Regions from separate parts of the Homo sapiens genome. Here region 2 is linked to region 1. Evidence: fine-mapped expression QTL. A gene starts in region 1. The other region holds a variant in brackets. All regions are shown on one strand. Distances are from middle to middle.

The links. PIP is the estimated chance that this variant, and not a neighbour inherited with it, causes the effect. A credible set is the group of variants that fine-mapping cannot tell apart.
Region 2: its variant is the best candidate, but not a certain one, in a credible set for the expression of ZCCHC4 in prefrontal cortex (BrainSeq, PIP 0.85).

What each region holds. Positions count from the first base shown.
Region 1 is chr4:25,311,071-25,313,992 of GRCh38, forward strand. It overlaps ZCCHC4 (zinc finger CCHC-type containing 4), which reads left to right and starts at 1,704. Exons shown (of 13, transcript NM_024936.3): 1 at 1,704-1,866. The coding sequence starts at 1,740. RefSeq lists enhancers at 1,358-2,234, 1,763-1,822 and silencers at 1,483-1,552, 1,560-1,764.
Region 2 is chr4:25,348,384-25,351,305 of GRCh38, forward strand. ZCCHC4 (zinc finger CCHC-type containing 4) reads left to right here. Exons shown (of 13, transcript NM_024936.3): 7 at 1,109-1,259. Among named protein-coding and RNA genes, the nearest start is that of ANAPC4, 27 kb to the right of the region's middle. The variant C/CT (reference allele first, on the strand shown) is at 1,871.

The sequences.
Region 1 (2,922 bases):
ACATCAAAGATACAGATGCTACTGGTGCAGATGGAGAATTTGAGTAAAACCATTACATGAAATGTGAAAGAAAAACAGCCATGTTTTTACAGTAATAAACCATAGCACTCAATGTGTGAAGTTAACTAGGCACATGCCCCAATGGTTCTTTAAATAACATAAGAGACTATTTCGTCTACAACCATAGACATGTGGCTGCGTCTTGATTACTGCACTATAAGACTTGAAATTGAGTAGGCTGATTCCTCCCACTTCATTATTCTTTTTCCAAAATTGTTTTAGCTATTTTAGTTCCCTTGCCTTTCCATATAAATTTCAGAATATTGTCTAAATGTACAAAAAGAATCTGGCTGGGATTTTCATAGCAATTGTGCTACACCTGTATAAGCATTAAACCTGGGGAGAACTGATATCTTTACTATGTTGAGTCTTCTGATTTATGAATGCAGTATGTTTCTGCATTTGTTTATTCTTTGATTTTTTTTTTTTTTTTTTAAGACGGAGTCTCACTCTGTCACCCAGGCTGGAGTGCAGTGGCACAATCTCGGCTCACTGCAAGCTCCGCCTTCCGGGTTCACGCCATTCTCCTGCCTCAGCCTCCCGAGTAGCTGGGACTACAGGTGCCCGCCACCACGCCTGGCTAATTTTTTTGTTTTTGTATTTTTAGTATTTTTAGTAGAGACGGGGTTTCACGGTGTTAGCCAGGATGGTCTCGATCTCCTGACCTTGTGATCCACCTGCCTTGGCCTCCCAAAATTCTGGGATTATAGGCGTGAGCCACCGTGCCCGGCTATTCTTTGATTTTTAAAAAACTTTAAAAATTGCTTATTTATTTTAGAGATGTCGTCTCGCTTTGTTGCCCGGGCTGGTTTCGAACTCCTGGATTCAAGCAATCCTCCCTCCTTGGCCCCCCAAAGTGCTGGGATTACAGGTGTGAGCCACTGCACTCAGCCTTGATTTTTTTTAATCAAGCATTTTGGAGTTTTTAGCATACATAAAGCTCTGTACATATTTCGTTAGATTTACACCTATTTCATTTATTTGAGTGATTGTAAGTGGTATTCTATTTTTTAGTGTTCTTGTGATCATTGCTAGTATTTAGAAATCCAGTTGATGTTTGTGTGTTTATCTCATATCCTGCAACCTTGCTGAACTCAGTTTAAACCGGAGGTGTTTTCCTGATAGATTCTTTCGGATTTTTAAAATGTGGACAATCATGTCATCTGCAAATCAGGACGGTTTTCTTTCTTTCTTATGTATAAATGTCAATGAGTATGCAACTATGATGTGCAACTTTCAGCATTGTCCAAAAGTTACAGAGGATGATGCAGTGACTGTGACTTTGAAAAACAAAGAATGATCCTTAAATCACAGCTGCTGCAGCCATTTCAGCTATTTGGCAGAGGTGGTAATGCTGCCTTTTGGACCTACAATACAACCAAGTCTTTGTTCGAATCATCTCACTTCCTGGCTATATTCTTAAGAAAGGAGGGTGCTTCATGCGCTGAGCTCATGGCACAGGTCCCGCAAGTGACCTGCGAGCCCCACCGCTAGGGGCCGCTTAGGTGCAGCCCCCAGGTGGGCGGGGACTGCGTTTCGGGGCGTGGCCTCCGCCGCGGCAGCCCCCGCCCAAGCTCCTCCTAAGCGCCTGGGGGCGCTGTGGGTCGCTTTGGGTCGCGGGGGCGCTCTTTCTCAGCATTCTTGTTTCGTACTGAGGCTTTCGGGACGGCGGCGGGAAGATGGCGGCCTCCAGGAATGGGTTTGAAGCCGTGGAGGCAGAGGGCAGCGCAGGGTGCCGGGGAAGCTCGGGAATGGAGGTGGTGCTTCCTTTGGATCCTGCCGTCCCCGCCCCGCTGTGCCCTCACGGTGGGTCAGAGTCTGGGCTCAGCCTAACTGCCGGGCGCTGAGGGTGTGAGTTGGCTTGGAAGTGGCTTTTGGGGCTCCTGTATTTTTACCCGCCTCTTTCCCTCACCAGTGTGCTGCCTAGAAAATACTCCTTCCTCGGAACGCGGTGTTTTTCAACTTACTTGAGAAACATTCAGAGCAAGTCTCCACTCTTGTGGTTTTGGCTCCAGGACTATTTCATCTCTTTTGGGGGGAAGGGGCAGAAAAGTAGGCAAAGAGAAGAATGCATGGTATTGAATAGTTCTCGTTGACAAGTACTTGGGGATTTCATTTGTTGATTTGCTCTCCCTTCAAAAATAAAAAATTAGGGAGAAAAACAGTGTAATTCTTGCCTGCGAACTAGACTCAGTTTTTCTCTAACTTACAGAAAGTGGGCGTTTCCAGCTCAAAGCTCAGGTTTTCACTGCAAGGGTAACCGCGCAAGAGATGTCAAAGTCCTCAATTCTCTGAGTCCCTTCCTTGTTTTAGTCTCAGGTTTGTAATATTCACAACGTAGACAGCAACTGTACCGACAATAGCATTTTCTTTCTGAAGAGACCGGTTTTCAAAAATTATTTATAAGTAGTCACTGCCGGAATGTTGTAACAGAGAGAAAAGAAACATTCATTAAACACAGAGAAGCCGGCGTGGTGGCGTGCACCTGTAGTTCCAGCACTTGGGGGGCCGAGGCGGGCTGATCGCTTGAGCCCAGGAGTTTGAGACTAGCCCGGGCAAAAATGATGACACTCCGTCTACAAAAAAAGAAAAACAGCTGGGGACACGCAACTGTAGTCCCAGCTACTCGGGATGCTGAGGCGGGAGAATCGCTTGAGGCTAGGAAGCAGGATCTCAGTGAGCCATGATTGTGCCAGTGCGCTTCAGCCTGGGCGACAGAGGGAGACCCTGTCTCAAGAAAACAAAACAAAAAACCCTAACAAAACAAAAAACAACCAACCAAAGAGATGGATTTAATTATGATAAATTGTGCCTAAAGCTCAAACAAATTTTATTTAAGGGCAGCGAAAACTAAGAACTTGA
Region 2 (2,922 bases), 37 kb after region 1:
ATTTTGTATACTGTGTTGACTTATTTTTGTAGATGAGTACAGTCAGCTCTCCCCACTTGTGGGTTCTGCATCTGTGGATTCAACCAACTGGAGATCAAAAATATTTAGGAAAAAAAGGATGGTGGTGACTGTACTGAGCATGTACACTTTTTTCTTGTCATTATTCCCTAAACCATAGAGTCTAAGAACTATTTATGTATCATTTACGTTGTATTAGGTATTATAAGTAACCTAGAGATTATTTAAACTATATAGGAGGATGTGCATAGGTTATGTGCAATACTACAACATTTTATATCAGGGACTCTAGCACCTGCAGATTTTGGTATATGCAGGGGTCCTGGAACCAATCCCTCAGGGATACTGAGGGGACTGTACTTGAAAGCTACTTGCAAGTCAGTTGAGTGGAGATACTGTTATATGGTATCTCTTAATAACTTCACTTATAGCAAAAACCATTAAATGTCCCTGTTAATGTTTACTTTGCAATTACTAAAAAAGCTTAAATTAACCTTTGGGAAAATGTGTTAATAGCATGGTTTCATGGACCAGATGCGCTTTGTCGTTTGTGAACTTTCATTTTTTATTTACTTACAGTGCATGTTCAAATATGTCTGCCTGATACTCAAAAACATATGCATGTTTAACTGCTAATTTGTAGCTGTTATTAAACTGAACTCATGGCATTGGACAAACCAGATAGGAAAACAATGTTTTCTTCGTCTTTGTGTGCCCAGTGCTTAGCACCATCCTGGCTTCTGTTTGTTAAATTGAATTTAACATTTTAGATAGTTTTCATGGGTAATGAGTTTCTTTTAGGACATTAAATTTAGCCTTTTAATTTAACCATTTGAAATGTGTAGTCTTCTGATAGTGATGGTGTTTGAATTTGCAATTTTAAAAACCTGCTTATCAAAGAACCCAAAGATAAAATCTCATAGGAGCAAAGAGAGGCTTCAGAATGTCACTGAGGAATGCTGCGGTGGCAAGATGACTTGGTAAAGTTTCCAGTATTAAGAGAGAGACTGAGTCTAATGCATTCTCCTCCAAATAGGATGAAGTGCCTCTCTCTAGTCCTAATTTAGAAATGAATTTTTATTTGTTCCAGACTGCCCTTGAAGTATGCAGAGCATTTTTACAGGAAGATAAAGGCGAAGGAATCATTATGGTGACGGATCCTCCGTTTGGTGGCTTGGTTGAACCTCTGGCTATTACATTCAAGAAGTTAATTGCTATGTGGAAAGAAGGTCAAAGCCAAGGTGTATAATTTATTACTGCAAAATAAATACATATCTATATATCTACTTCCTGTCAAATATTAGCTGAGCTCAGTGAATCAGAGCAGTGATAGAATATACATGTCTTGAGTTCTCTTTTTAAAAACAGGCTTATTTGATGTTGCAGCAAACTTCATTATCATGATATACTTTGTATTATTCTAATCATGTGGATTTTTTTAATGGCTTATAGGTAAAATACTATGTTTTTGATGGGGATAATGGGACATTATGCAGAACAGCAGTGAACTGCTGTCATTCTATTCAGTAAATATTTACCGAGTGGCCACTGTGTGCCAGGCACTGTTTAGGTACTAGGAATAGATTTTTGAACAAAGCCGACACATACCTCTGCCCTGTGGATCATACATTCCCTGTTCCTAAAGCCTGGCCCAGAACACTAAGAGGGCACTCAACCTGAGGTCCAGGGCTCTACGCTTTGCCAGGATATGAGTTTGGAGGTTAGACATCCCATAGGCTGATTGTGGTTATCAGTGACACAGATTCCCAGCCCTATAGGTAGGCTAGTGGCTGGGGGTTATTATTCAGTTTAAGTGACTTAGCCGTGTACGGTCTTCAGGCAGGTACTGCTT[C/CT]TTTTTTTTTTTTTTTTTTTTTTTTGAGACAGAGTCTCACTCTGTCACCCAGTCTGGAGTGCAGTGGTACAATCTCGGCTCACTGCAACCTCTGCTTCCCAGGTTCAAGCGATTCTTCTGCCTTAGCCTCCTGAGTAGCTGGGACTACAAACATGTGCCACCATGCCCACCTAATTTTTTTTCCCCTGTATTTTTAGTAGAGACAGGGTTTTGCCATGTTGGCCAGGCTGGTCTTGAACTCATGGCCTCAAGTGATCTGCCTGCCTCAGCCTCTCAAAGTGCTGGATTACAGGCGTGACTTAGGACTTCAAAGTATTTTATATAATTATCTAATTAGTTGGTACATTCATTTTTTAGAAACATTTTCTAGCTCGCAAGTTGATAAATTTGTTAAGAGTGTCAGGAATTTTGTGATCATGCTTCTCCACTAATAGTGCTTTGAGGGACAATGCAAATGAAATATAAAACGTGACTCATATTGTTAAGTATTTCACTTATTTGCTGTTTTTAAGTCCACTAATTAGAGTGGATAAAGTCAATGTCATTGGGGAAGCAATAAAGAGCTTTGTGGGCTTGAATTCCTGTTCTGCCACTTATTAGCTGCATTGGACTTGATAGCTTATGGCTTCAGTTTCCCTATCTGTAAAATGGGATAACATCTAATTCTAGGGATTATTGTAAGGAGACAGTACATAGAATGTACTTATTATAGCTTAGTGTAAGCACTATGATTAGGCTTGCCTCTGATTAAGGCTTTTCAGCCTATTGGAATTTTAGCTGTAATAGTGCTATAATGAATACTAGCCTATACTAGGTGCTTTGTAAGTAATAGCTGTGTTCCCTGTCTCTCACAAACACTAATTTTGGTAAAACTGTTTTGAAGAATCTTCCATGATGCAGACAAGGTTGATTCATCCCTGAAAACTAAGATAATGAGTTGTGGCAGAGCTGGGATTCACACCGAAGACCTACTGCCTTCTAGTCCAGAGGTCCTTTCACTGCATCATGACTACCTTTGTGCCTCAAAAGTGGCACTCCTTTTCTATTTTCAA